Homo sapiens: one gene and its partners. The protein of the gene in region 1 purifies or fractionates together with the protein of each later gene. This does not show direct contact. Each region holds a gene or a part of one and is shown in the gene's direction. Other genes may lie near its edges.

The links.
Region 2: the proteins of CPOX (region 1) and NUDT9 fractionate together in Homo sapiens (co-fractionation; one large-scale study listed by BioGRID). This does not show direct contact.
Region 3: the proteins of CPOX (region 1) and MAP7 fractionate together in Homo sapiens (co-fractionation; one large-scale study listed by BioGRID). This does not show direct contact.
Region 4: the proteins of CPOX (region 1) and TRNT1 fractionate together in Homo sapiens (co-fractionation; one large-scale study listed by BioGRID). This does not show direct contact.

The regions. Positions count from the first base shown.
Region 1 is NC_000003.12:98,578,946-98,581,278, reverse strand, and holds the end of CPOX (oxygen-dependent coproporphyrinogen-III oxidase, mitochondrial precursor), read left to right. Parts: intron 1-508; coding exon 509-596; 3' UTR 597-1,833; downstream 1,834-2,333. UniProt on the Homo sapiens protein: Catalyzes the aerobic oxidative decarboxylation of propionate groups of rings A and B of coproporphyrinogen-III to yield the vinyl groups in protoporphyrinogen-IX and participates to the sixth step in the heme biosynthetic pathway.
Region 2 is NC_000004.12:87,421,195-87,425,372, forward strand, and holds the start of NUDT9 (ADP-ribose pyrophosphatase, mitochondrial isoform a precursor), read left to right. Parts: upstream 1-1,378; 5' UTR 1,379-1,711; coding exon 1,712-1,818; intron 1,819-4,178.
Region 3 is NC_000006.12:136,358,423-136,361,922, reverse strand, and holds part of MAP7 (ensconsin), read left to right. Parts: intron 1-743; coding exon 744-918; coding exon of another isoform or gene 919-987; intron 988-1,124; coding exon 1,125-1,226; intron 1,227-1,891; coding exon 1,892-1,942; intron 1,943-2,045; coding exon 2,046-2,103; intron 2,104-3,500. UniProt on the Homo sapiens protein: Microtubule-stabilizing protein that may play an important role during reorganization of microtubules during polarization and differentiation of epithelial cells. Associates with microtubules in a dynamic manner.
Region 4 is NC_000003.12:3,140,440-3,143,939, forward strand, and holds part of TRNT1 (CCA tRNA nucleotidyltransferase 1, mitochondrial), read left to right. Parts: intron 1-70; coding exon 71-209; intron 210-3,500. UniProt on the Homo sapiens protein: Nucleotidyltransferase that catalyzes the addition and repair of the essential 3'-terminal CCA sequence in tRNAs, which is necessary for the attachment of amino acids to the 3' terminus of tRNA molecules, using CTP and ATP as substrates. tRNA 3'-terminal CCA addition is required both for tRNA processing and repair.

The DNA.
Region 1 (2,333 bases):
AGAAAATCACAGTCAAATAAGGCAAATCAAATTGGGTATTTTAAGCGGTGACATGGTGAATCCCACAGCTCTATGAGGGCAAGGAGAGACTAGAGGGAGAGAGAACACAGGCTGAGTCATGGTGGCTAGGAGGTGAGATGGACCTTCTCTGCCTATTTGTTTTTCTGAGAAGAGGTATGCATAAGTATTAAGCTAAAGAAGGTTTGCCCATGGATCACCTGAGTTTCTACACTATATGAAACCCTGGTTTATATTAAAGGTGTATTTTGGCTCTGGGATATTAATACTAGCCAAAGCATACCCAAGAGTTGTTAAGAAACTATTTGTTTGGCAAATAGTTTTTTTAAAGGTCAAGTTGGTACAAGGCACATCAGGCACAGTAGAGACAAAGAAGTATAAGGCTTTTTTTTTTTTTATTCTTAGGATTTTATTTTTCATTTATTTTAAGTAAAGAGGTATGTGTGTCATTTTTTATGACGTTTTTTGCTTTTGTTTTGGACATGCATAGATGGGAGTACATGCATTCACCCTCAGAGAATTCCAAAGAAGCTGAAATTCTGGAAGTTCTACGCCATCCAAGGGACTGGGTGCGTTGATGCAGGCAGAATGGCTGTGCAGGGGTTTGGAGGGCACACGATGTGTGCTCCCCATGCCACTGGTCGGCACTTTGCCACTGTGTGGCAGTTACCCGTGCCTTAGTCTTCTCCACTCTGCACCCTACCTCGTGGGCAGATGATAACATGTTTTGGATGCTGTCAGTGATGAATGGTGAGATGGCAGATTGTCAGAGTCAATTGATTAAACCTCATTTATACTTCTAGTGTCATTTTATATGACTAGTTTACAAAATAGGACATTGAGTTTCCAAGTATTGAGATAAGGGAATATAAATAGTATTATATGTATCAGGAAATCTCTCATCTTGTTTTTGTTTCATGTATTTTTTAAAGTTTTCATTTGTGCCACAAAAATCTGTCGTGGAATATATTTTATTTTCATTAATTCAGTGAAGTTGAGACTTCATAGTAATTTTAGAATGCAACTTGAAGGTAAAAATTTTACTTTGTCAATACTGAAGTCTCTGCTGTAATCCTTATATATCTTTCTCCAGAGAACATAATATTGTCAAATAGATACACATTTTTCTAATAGGTATTTAGAAGCACTTGAAATAATCTCTGCATGTGTTACAATTCAGTTATTTCTGTAGTTTGTAAACTCTAAAGTGACATTACTATTATTTTAGAGATGTCTAAGTTGTAATTTTGATTTTTGTGGAACCATTGTTTGTTAATGTTGGGATTCTCTGCACTTTTGAATGTGAAAGCTTATATCCCTGAATTCTGATACTTAAGAGTTTTCTATTTCAGACATCTCTGTGTGGAAGTTGAGACTAAGAATAATCCTAGGGATGTCATGAATTTAGGCAATGTTTCTCATTTGGAAAATGAAATGAGAAATAATTTCCTTCTTTAAAGCAAGTATATATAGTATGAGAAACTTGGAGGCATTTCATACACACGTTTCTTAGGAAAATGGACACATTGAAAATGTCCTCTTTTTTATATTAGAGATTCTGCAGCTCTTTGCTCTTAAGAGCAAATCACAACAGGATTCTTAATGTATGATTTCTTTGTTCATATATTATGAATGTATTATTTTATTTGCTTCGTAATAAAGTTTATAAGGAAGAGCATCTCATACATATCATTATCGTGGAACACGTTGAATGTTTGTGATTCTGTGTGGCCTTTTTGGGGCTGGAAAATGTATGAATTCTTCAACTGTCTTACAAGAGATCTGCTAATAAATTTTATTATTAAATAAGACTAAGAAATATTTATATTTTTTGTTGCCAGGATAATATAGGAAAACGCATATATTTCTTAGTACAGTTGATCCTTGAACAACATTAGGGCTAGGGGCCCCAACTCCTCCTTACTGCATGCAGTTTCAAATCCTTGTATAACTTTTGACTCTCCCAAAACTTAATCACTAATAGCCTCCTGTTGACTGGTAGCCTGACCAATAACATAGTCAATTCGCACATGTTTTATGTTATATGTATTATATACTCTTCTTACAAGCTAAAGAAATGAAAATGTTATTAAGGAAATCGTAAGAAAGAAGATATATTTGCTATTCATTAGGTGGAAGTGAATCATCGTAAAGGTCTTCATCCTCATTGTTTTCATGTTGGGTAGGCTTAGTGGGAGTAGTAAGAGGAAGAGTAGGTCTTGCTCTCTCAAGGGTGGCAGAGGTGGAAGAAAATCTGCGAAGAAGCAAAACTCTTCAAACCTGTGTTGTTCAAGGCTCAGCTATGCTAATGCCAT
Region 2 (4,178 bases), on another chromosome or scaffold:
ATCAATAAGCTAATATAAATGAAGTAAGCCTGATTACAAGCTGCTTTGGACAGTCTGGGTTTCCAACTTTGTTTGTCGGTTTGTTTAATTTTTGCCTCTCAAGTTTATTATCCAGTATTATGTGTGTTGCCCTCTGTTCCTCCTCCAGCATGTGTGCCTATTTTCACAGCTTTTCTCCTCCACGAGTTTCCAAGGGCCACAACTGGTCCTAGCAAAGCCTTGTGAATGAAATCCAGCAATTGGAGCAGACAACTTGGTTAAGAAAACAAAAACAAAAAACCAAGAAACCCTTCAAGATACGAGGGCTGAGTCTCTGGACTATCTCCTCTTGCTGTAACCGCCCAAGGGGTTCACCTTTCCCGCTTCCTAGACAGAGCTGATTCATCAAGACAGGGGAATTGCAATAGAGAAAGAGTAATTCATGCAGAGCCAGCTGTGTGAGACCGGAGTTCTATTATTACTCAAATCAGTCTCCCTGAGCATTCAGGGAGCAGAGGTTTTTTCTTTTTTTTTTTGATACGTAGTTTCACTCTTGTCGCCCAGGGTGGAGTGCAGTGGTGCGACGTTGGCTCACTGCAACCTCCACCTCCCGGGTTCAAGCGATTCTCCTGCTTCATCCTCCTGAGCAGCTGGGACTACAGGCGCGTTTACCACCATGCCCAGCTAATTTTTGTATTTTTAGTAGAGACGAGGTTTCACCACGTTGGCCAGGCTGGTCTTGAACTCCTGACTGCAAGTGATCCCGCCTCGGCCTCCCAAATCAGTCATAATTTTGCAAAGGCGGTTTCATTCCCATAACGAAGTATTATTCAAAAATATGGCTAAGACCTGCGTCCTTCCGCAACAACTTACTCCCTAAAAAAACCAGAGCAGGGCCAGGCGCGTTGGCTGAGGCCTGTAACCTCAGCACTGTGGGAGGCCCAAACAGTTGGATTATTTGAGCTTGAGAGTTGGAGACCAGCCTGGGCAACATGGCAAAAATCTGTCGCTACAAAACATACAAAAATTAGCCAGGTATGGCGGTGTGTGCCTGTAGTCCCAGCTACGTCGGGGGCTGAGACAAGAGACTCGCTTAAGCCCAGGAGGTTGAGGCGGCAATGAGCTGAAATCGCGCCCCTGCACTGCAGCCTGGGCGACAGAGCCAGACTCTTGTCTCAAAAAACAAAAACCAAAAACCCAGGGCAGCAAGTCTCTCTCAAACCCCTTGGCTTCTTTCCCACTTATTCCCGTTCCAGTTCCTCGTCTGTTTCACCTTTCCTTTCCTCTGACACTTTCTTGGTAGTTCCCTGCGTCCCCAAGTAAGCCTGCGCAGACTGGGAAGTCTGGGAAGTCGGAGAAGGAAGGCGCTACCAAGCCGGCAACGCACGACCTTTGCTTTGCGGCGCGGCCGTAAAGCGCCATTACGCAGAGAGAAAGTTACGAGGTTCGTGGCCGCGGTTTCCCCAGGCAGCTGGCGCTGGAGGCTTCGGCGTCACGTGCTGGTCTGGATTTTTCTCGATGCACTGGGGAAAGCGGTGGACTCTTATCGTGGGAGGGCTCTTGATCTGTGATTTATAGATAGGCACAGCTACTCCCGTTCGGGAACCCAACGGCAGACAGGTCCTAGTGCCCATCAGATACCCGCGGCCGGGACTCGGAGCTGTGGGGTGTGGGGAGGCGGAGGCACCAACTAAGAGCGACCTAGCATCGCAAAGCCGCCCTCGGGGCGCTCATGGCGGGACGCCTCCTGGGAAAGGCTTTAGCCGCGGTGTCTCTCTCTCTGGCCTTGGCCTCTGTGACTATCAGGTCCTCGCGCTGCCGCGGCATCCAGGCGTTCAGGTATTCCACCCTCCTACTACCGGCTCCTTTGCCCTAGACCTTGAGTTGGGGGTGGGAAGCAGCTTTTTTTTCTGGCGTATTCTGTAGGCTTTGCTTTGCCTCTCGGGTTTTTATAGTCATATACAAGTTTTCAAAAAGGCTCTAAAATATTTTATCTGCCTTTTGAGGAAAACGAGTGGCAGGGACCCTTCTTGACTTCTGATTTTGAAATTTGCCATTCTCTGTAAATCATTGTTAGTATCACGAGAGAGTTTAAATAGCAATTGTTTGGGGTGGTGGTGTCCCGTGCCATTTTTTTATGGTTAATACTTAAAACATTATTATTAGTATTAATACATGTACATAGTTAAAACAACTTGAAAATGTAAAATGAAAAGTAAAATCACTATTCCCCCTGTCCCCTTTCCAGGGTGGACAATATATTATATTTACTATCTACCTCCTTTTTTTTAATAATTTGTCTATTGTGGTTAAATTTAGGGATTTATGGTGTCTTACACTGCCTCCTTCTGTTCTTCCCTTCTCCAGTTTTTATTCTTTGAGTTAGTAAACACAGGGTCCTAGGTGCAGCAGCCTTTTCTTATTTTATAGATATTAAAAGTCTTGAATCTACAAAGATGATAATTAGAAAAATCTATTTCCTAAATAATTTACTTACTGTTGGTCAATTGTTCTGTGTCTTTTTGGTCCTGTTTCCTTCTGTTGCTTTTTCTCGAACATGTGATGGGCACTGGTTATCTGTCTATATTTTGATTAATATGAGTAATAGGTCTTGTTTTCAGTACATGGGTCGCTAATTGACTTTTGGCTCTGTACCAGGTTGCCTAGATAGGAAGGTTTCAGTTGAGGGCATGTGAGCAGGTACCAGATGGGTAGACTGGGAACCTGCCTTTTGCTTCAGGCTTTGCAGTAGTGGTGGAGCAACTTCTCTGCTGAGTATAGCTGTTTATTTCCTCCGTGTGAACTGTAAAATTATTAAGCCTAAGTTTCTGCTGTGTACTCTTAACACCAGTATTCACAGTAGGGGTCCTACCCCTTCATTTCTAAAAAACTTTTGATTTTATCTTGGAGACAAACATAACTATTTTGGACTTTTTGCTTGGAGATTGGGGAGGGAGGAGGACTGAGTGATTTCCATGGTTATTGTCGCGCTGCCAGTTTATGATCCTTGGGCCCACTGACTTCAAGCTTGAAACCTCTAGCTCGGCTCAGCTTGTAGGAATAGCATTTCTCCCTAATGCGTTTTTTTTTTTTTTTTTTTTTTTGAGAAGGAGTTTCGCTCTGTCGCCCAGGCTGGAGCGCAGTGGCGCGATCTCGGCTCACTGCAACTTCCGCCTCCTGGGTTCAAGCGATTCTTCTGCCTCAGCCTCTTGAGTAGCTGAGATTACTGGCGCGCGCACGCCCGGCTAATTTTTTTTGTATTTTTAGTAGAGACAGGGTTTCACCATCTTGGTTAGGCTGATCTGGTCTTGAACTCTTGACCTCGTGATCCGCCCGTCTCGGCCTCCCAAAGTGCTGGGATTACAGGCGTGAGCCACCGCGCCCGGCCTTGGTGCATATTCTTATTTTACTTTGTCCTACTCTGGTTTGTAGGTCAATATTCCAACAACTTTTCATTTTCCTGAAGTTGGTTACCATCTGTCATTCACTGGTGGCATTTATTCCTTCTCCTGGTACGGATTTTATTTCCCTTTATCTATCTTTATCTTCTTTTAGTGGGATTTGAGGAAGGAAGGAATACACGTGTGTGCTCTCTGGAAATCTCTAATGCTCTTTTTGTTAGATGCCAGCAGAACAGTGTAAAGTTGCTTGACAGTTATTCTTCGTTTTTGTAACTCTGGGAACCCTACATGAGGCAGGTATATCCAGAACCAGAGACTGTACTGACTTGAAAGAAAAAGCCAACAGTTAACAAATGTGCCAAGTACCTGGTAACTAATGTGGCAGAATAGCTTGAACCGGGGAGGTGGAGGTTGCAGTGAGCTGAGATCATGCCACTGCATTCCATTCTGGGTGACAGAGTGATACAATGTCTCAAGAAAAACAAAAAAAGAATTTTATGGCCAGGCACAGTGGCTAACACCTGTAATCCCAGTGCTTTGGAAGGCTGAGGCAGGAGGATCGTGTGAGGCCAGGAGTTTGAGACCAGTCTAGGCAACTTAGCAAGACCCTTGTCTCTAAAAAAAAAAAACTGGGCCTGGTGGCATGCATGTGTAGTCCTCACTATCAGTAGGATCAGAGTAGGCTCAGAGACTACTAAGTGATCAGTAGGATTGCTTGAGCTCAGGAGTTGAGTTTGAGGCTGTGGTAAGCTATGATCGCATCACTGCATTCCAGCCTGAGTGGCACAGCAAGACCGT
Region 3 (3,500 bases), on another chromosome or scaffold:
TTTACTTAACACATCTCCAATCTCCAGGTTTCCGTTTTATCTTTGTAATTATCACATTAAGGCTGCATAATAAGGGTTCATGTTTTCTCCTTTCCAGATAAAACTCCTCTCGGAGGGTAGCCAGGTGGGATCTTTACATGCCCCATGATTGCCTGCCAGGCAGTATTCCAGAAACAGTTTGTTTAATTGGTCATCTTCTGGGCCTAATAAGACGAATGTCAATATAATTGTTCTTCAAACGAACACAACTGTACCCTGGGGAAGGATCTCATGCACTCGCTGGACCGCCATCTTGGCCATGCCTTTCCCTTGGCTCCAACAGGGAGCTTACATGGCTGTCTTCCTCCTGTCCTGTGACAGAACACTGTGACCCTTATTTATTTACAAAGATTCCCTTTGGCTGGGGTGCTTCAAATTCATTACTAAGAAGTCACATTATTTGAATTAAACAAGTCAGAGCCTTTAAAAAATAGTTAAATTCCTTCCAAAAAGCCAGCTCTCCCCAAGATATTGGTGGTTACACGTTGCTTCTATTTAGCACGGACAGCAATGCAGCTGGCAAGGCGGGAGGAAGTCTAAGGGTGGCTTCGCGCTTTGTCCCTTAGCAGTGGTGAAGGCATCCAGTGGGGATTTTTCTACTGGACGCCTAAAGGAACCGCCCTACAGAACCACCGACGGAGGCCTCTCTTCAAAGATTTCTCCTCAGGTGTCTTTGGTTTTGGTTTTGTTCTGTCTTTTTCCAGACAAAAGAGAGAGGAATTGGCTCAACGTGTGGCTGAAGAGAGGACGACTCGCCGTGAGGAGGAGTCGCGCAGGCTGGAAGCCGAGCAGGCCCGGGAGAAGGAGGAGCAGCTGCAGCGGCAGGCGGAGGAGCGGGCGCTGCGCGAGCGGGAGGAGGCAGAGCGCGCCCAGAGGCAGGTGCGGCCGCACCCCACCCTGGCCCCGGCCCCAGTCCCGCAGGGAGACGCCCCAGCCCAGCAGAGGAGGGTGCGGACTGGACTGCTGGTGCTCCCGCTTTCCACACCTTCTCCATCCGCCACCTCGCCCCCACCTCTGGGCACCCCCTGGGAGACCCGGGCAGCCCGCCTGTTTGTCAGAGGCAGACGCCGACCTTCTGTTTTCAGAAAGAAGAAGAAGCTCGCGTTCGTGAAGAAGCAGAGAGGGTCCGGCAGGAACGAGAGAAGCATTTCCAGAGAGAAGAGCAAGAGCGCCTGGAGAGAAAGAAGGTAGCTGCGTCTTAGTAGAGAGGCCCGGGACGCGAACTTGCACCTCTAAGACCCAGAGACTAGCCCTGGCCGTCAGAAAACGCGTGTTCTACCCTTGCCACATAAACTAGTAGCCCCCTCAGTGATAACAATCTCCTGCAAAGAAATCTCTCTCGGTGTTTTAGCCGTCACCAAAAAACACTTACTTCCACTTCATGTAGCTTAAGGCAGTTCCAACTTTCTTGAATAACCCCAGTTAAGACAAAGCAGCACTGCTGGGCCGGGTGGCTCATGCCTGTAATCCCAGCACTTTGGGAGGCCACGGCAGGTAGATCACCGAAGTCAGGAGTTCGAGACCAGCCTGGCCAACATGGTGAAACCCTGTCTTTACTAAAAATGTAAAAATTAGCTGGGCGTGGTGGCGGGCGCCTGTAATCCCAGCTACCTGGGAGACTGAGGCAGCTTGCGCCCAGGAGGCAGAGGCTACAGTGAACTGAGAGCTTGCCACACGGCACTCCAGCCTGCGTGACAGGGCAAGACTCCATCTCAAAAAAAAAAAAAAAAGTGCATATTGTATTTTTCCAAAATAACAGACCATTTTAAATAATCTATTTCATCAGTTAAATATGCCAGGCTGGCTTTTTTTCTGTGTCTAATCTTCTTGCTCAATTCTTCCTTTCCTATAGCGACTTGAGGAGATTATGAAAAGAACCAGGAGAACAGAAGCTACAGATAAGGTATTGACATGGCCGTTTTCTAACTACTTTTGTATGCTTTTATCTTTTTCATTTTCACTTGTAACTCTAATTTTTAAAAGTCCTCTTTTTTTCTTCTTCGTAGAAAACCAGTGATCAGAGAAACGGTGATATAGCCAAGGGAGCTCTCACTGGAGGAACAGGTATTTCTGTCAATGAACTCAAACCAATTTATATATAAAATGTTTAAATTGACTCTCCAGGGGTGAAGATATTCAGGAATTGATGGAGGGAAAAAAGATCCAGTGCTTACAGACTCACAGAAGCTTAGGGGTCTGTCATCGAGTCCTTCCTTCCTCTTATGTAAAACTGTCTAGTGTTTCTACCAGTTACTTTTCACGTTTGTTTATACTCTAATGGGTTGCTTGATATTTTAAATCATCTTATGTAATATGTATTTATGCATATATGTATATATACTTATACATATATGTGTATACATATACTTTTAGAAGAATTTCTTTTGAGTTTATAAAACTAAATTTCATTTATCACATACTGTCTGCTCAAGTAGTGTATATTTATATTTCCTCTTAAGAAAGGACTTTAAATTTACACATTGGACAACTTGTATTATAGAAGTTCTCAGAAAAATGATTTAAATGTTATTTATCTTAGATCTGACTTCAAAATAAAGTTAAAAATTTGTTGAAATTCTTATTTTTTTAATTGACAAATAATAGTTGTACATATTCTTGGGGTCCAGAGTGATATTTCCATACATATAATGTACAGTGATCTTGAAATTTCATTAGAGTTACTGATATGCCATCGGCTTTGGAAAGAGATTATTGATTTTTTTTTGGAGATTATAAGTCAAATGTATTTAAAATAAAAGTGAAATTAGCCTTAATACTCAGATTAAATTAATATTAAGTGCCCTTTTTGTATCAGGTACATCTTTCATACATAATTCCTACTGCTGCCTTGTGAAGTGGTTTGCTTTGTCTTTGAGTCAACAAGCATTTTTGAAGCTCTTCTATGTGCCAGGCCGTGTTATAGGGCTGGGATTCAGTGTGAACAAATAGGCAAAGTCCCTCTACCCACAGGGGCACTCAGGTCCAATGACAGGCCAGGCTTACGCAGCTGGGGCCCCGGTCCCCCAGCTCCTGATTCTGCTCCTTCAGTGATCCTTCGTGGTCTTCATGATTGTACATGCAGGTGGTTAGTAGATAGCTCATCATTGTCTTCCTCTTTCCTCATGTGTGATATCAATATGAAAAGAAAAGACCAGAGGTACTGCAGTTTTCTTTTTCTGTTTACAAACAAAAGCAAAGGCTGGAATACCTTTTGCTCAAAGATCAAATCCAACGGTTTATGTGACAGAACATTGCCTATAAACATTAAGGGTTTTCAAATGTAAAGTATTATTGGTATTTTGGGACTTGGTTTTATTTCCATAGAAGCTATTTTGGTTTCTGTATGTCATAATTCCTTTATAGTGGAGTTTTCATGCTCTTTTAAAGATGCTCTAATGTATGTATGTGTATGTTTGGAGAATAGTCTTAATGGTTGTATATTATAACCCCATTGCATTTTT
Region 4 (3,500 bases), about 95 Mb from region 1:
ATTTTTTTCAATTCAGTAGTATGAAAACCTAATTTAAATGACAACAAAAACCCCATGTATTTAATTGCAGCTTCATGAAGAAAATTTTGAGATTACTACACTACGGATTGATGTCACCACTGATGGAAGACATGCTGAGGTAGAATTTACAACTGACTGGCAGAAAGATGCGGAACGCAGAGATCTCACTATAAATTCTATGTTTTTAGGTAATATTTGCAGATAAAACCATATTGTGAGTCTATCAGAATGCCTTCTTTTCAAGTAAAACCTACATTCTGGAAATGTTCTTCAACTTGAGAAGTTGCATTAATTTCTTCTAAGAGATGGTTTAGCAGATTGCTTCAAAGAATAGTCCCTCAGCCGGGCACGGTGGGTCACGCCTGTAATCCCAGCACTTTGGGAGGCCAAGGCAGGCGGATCATGGGGTCAGGAGATCGAGACCATCCTGGCTAACACGGTGAAACCCCATCTCTACTAAAAATATAAAAAATTAGCCGGGCGTGGTGGCGGCTGCCTGTAGTCCCAGCTGTTAGGCAGGAGAATGGTGTGAACCCGGGAGGCGGAGCTTGCAGTGAGCTGAGATTGTGCCACTGCACTCCAGTCTGGGCAACAGAGCGAGACTCCATCTCAAAAAAAAAGAATAGACTCTGGAGCCAAAATCCCTGGGTTCAAATTCTGACTCCGTCACTCACTAGCCACAAAACAAAAACGTTAATTAATATTGGCTTCCTTTGTACCGCTGTTGTGAGGTTTAAGAGAGTTAATTGTAAATGCTTAGAACAGTGCCTGACACATGTACACACTCAGTCAGTGCTAACTTCTTAACTGCATATAAACATGATTTCAGGGAAGAGAAGTGCACACACACATGGTACATGTACATACTCCACACACATCTACACACACACACACCCAGGATCATTCTTTTTCCTTTGCACTATCTTTCATGCATGTTTATTCAATCTTTCTTCTGCTTCCCTGGCAAACAATGGTGAATGACTTCAGCACTTTTTACTGCTGAGCCTACACACAACCTCAGATTCTTTTTTAGCATTGTATTCTAGGAATCATCAATAATCAGAGTTGGTATGTAAGATGAAACCTATTTATTTCAGCTTAACTTTTTTGTTTAATGAAAGCACTGGGAATTATATGGGGGCTAGATACGAATTAGGTTAGTGTTTTGATACATTACTGATGCATCATATGTTGTACTTTAAAGTTAAGACAAGCCCTTTATGTTTAAGATTTTGGATTAAAAAAGGATGAAACATCCACTGTTCATAACCTAGTTTGTAGCAATAGTAGTGGTAAAAGGATGAAGTAATAGGATTTGCTTCATGCATAGATGGGCAAGAAGTTTATAAGCTAAGGTGGCATCTCTTGCTGATTACAGTAATGACAGATACAATTTCTAGGGTACCTACTGGGTTCTAGGTACAACATTGGGTACCTGATATACTTTATTTCATTAAACTCTCAGAAAAACTTCATAAAGTATGTTAAGCCCACTTGATAGAAGAGGAAACTTGAGACTGAGAGATATTAAGTAACTTAGTTTAAGTCACAGAGAACCATGATTTTGGCTTGTTTCCAAGGCCTAGGCAATATATGACCATAGAGAGCCCAATTGGTGCATTTTTCTCTCAGTTAATGTAGTCAGAGCTCCAGGTATTTATTTATTCTCATATTTACTCATAGAGGAAGCTGCTCCAAATAGTGCAATATAGAGTCTTGTCTAACTGGCTTCTCATAAGCATACTGAAAGAGAGAAACTAATACTCTTTTTCAGTGTCCTAGTTTATAAAATAAAAGTTGTTCCTATTGGTACTATCATTTTCTGACATTTACTGAACCCTTATAACATGTCAGGCACTGTTCTGAGCACATTATGTAAATTTAATCTCCTGACAACCCTGCGAAGCAGATACTGCTATTTAACCGATGGTAACTTGCCCAAAGTTGCACAGCTTGTAAAGTGTAGGATCAGAATTCCAACTCAGGCAGCCTGACTCCAGAGGTCACATTCTTAACCACTACATTATTCCCTGCAACTCAACCATATTTCATATTTTTATTTACTGTATTTTAAAAGGATGATATTCAGAGCAAAACAAAATACACACCAGTATGATGCTTACTAAGCTTTGTGTAGTTTTCTATCCTGGCTTTTTCCAAGCCTTATTGGATCAAGCATTCATAGTTCTGGCATTTATGGTTGGTTACTTTGCTTCCCAAACGCTTATTTTTGCTTTGATCATATTCCTATGATTTTTTCCTCCAAATTTTGATCTTGCCTTTAGGTTCCCCAGGGACGGTTACAAGTCTCTTCATTAGGAGAAATAACACCAAGATGGATATACCATATTATTTGCTACTTTGTGATCATATTTTTGCCTATTTACATATTTTCTTTTTATCATTTTCTTTTATGTCTTTTTGAATCTGGAGCCTTCGAAATTTGCCATGTATGTCAAGATGGTTCCCTTTTAAAAGTTACTATGCATATAAAACTATTAACAGCTTGGAAAGAGTTAAGCATTAAGTGTGAACTTACCAATGTACTGTTGCTTTTGGGATAATCAGAGAACATTCAAGTTCAAACACAGCCAAGAGGTATTTTTGATAAGTAGTTGTCAGTGCCTCTTTTCTGTAATGCTACAGAGTGAAGTATCTCATAGATCACTGACCTCCCCATTTGGTGAGCTGAATGGTGTCTGTGTTTCGGCTCTAAATTCCTTTTTCTATTTTTTTAAGTCTCCATGGTAACCAACTGTCTTAGTTTGCCTGAGCTTGAAATACTTCCTTGGATGTATGATTTTCAACTTTAAAACTAGGAATGTCTCAGGCAAACCAGTATGAAGTGGTCACTCTACTAATTAATACTTGAGGTTTTATGTACATATATATAAAATTAGTTTTATGTCACTTTTTTCATTCAACATATGAGAACATTTGTTTATTACCATTTTTGTGAATGGCTAATAGATTAACATGGTTCAAAATTCACAAAGTTTTAAAGGCTCTACAGTGAAGTCTCCTGATCTGTAATGAACAGGACTGCCCATTTAACCACACCCTTGCTAACACTGTTATCAAGTGTTTGCATCGTTGCCGATCTGAAAGACGCTATCTTGGAAATGGGTATTTACTGGCCGGGCATGGTGGCTTATGCCTGTAACCCTAGCACTTTGGGAGGCTGAGGCATGCAGATCACTTGATGTCAGGAGTTCGAGACCAGCCTGGCCCACTTGCCGAAACCCTGTCTCTACTAAAAATACAAAAATTAGCTGTGTGTAGTGGCAGGTCTACTTGGGAGGCTGAAGCAGGAGAATCACCTGAACCTGGGAGGCTGCAGTGAGCTGAGATTGCACCACTGCACTCCAACCAGGGTGACAAAGTGAGAATCCGCCTCAAAGAACAAAAAAAGGATTTATGACTAAGGTTGAAAATCTTCATTATTAAAGAGATTTCTATATTTCCTTTATAGGTAGCCT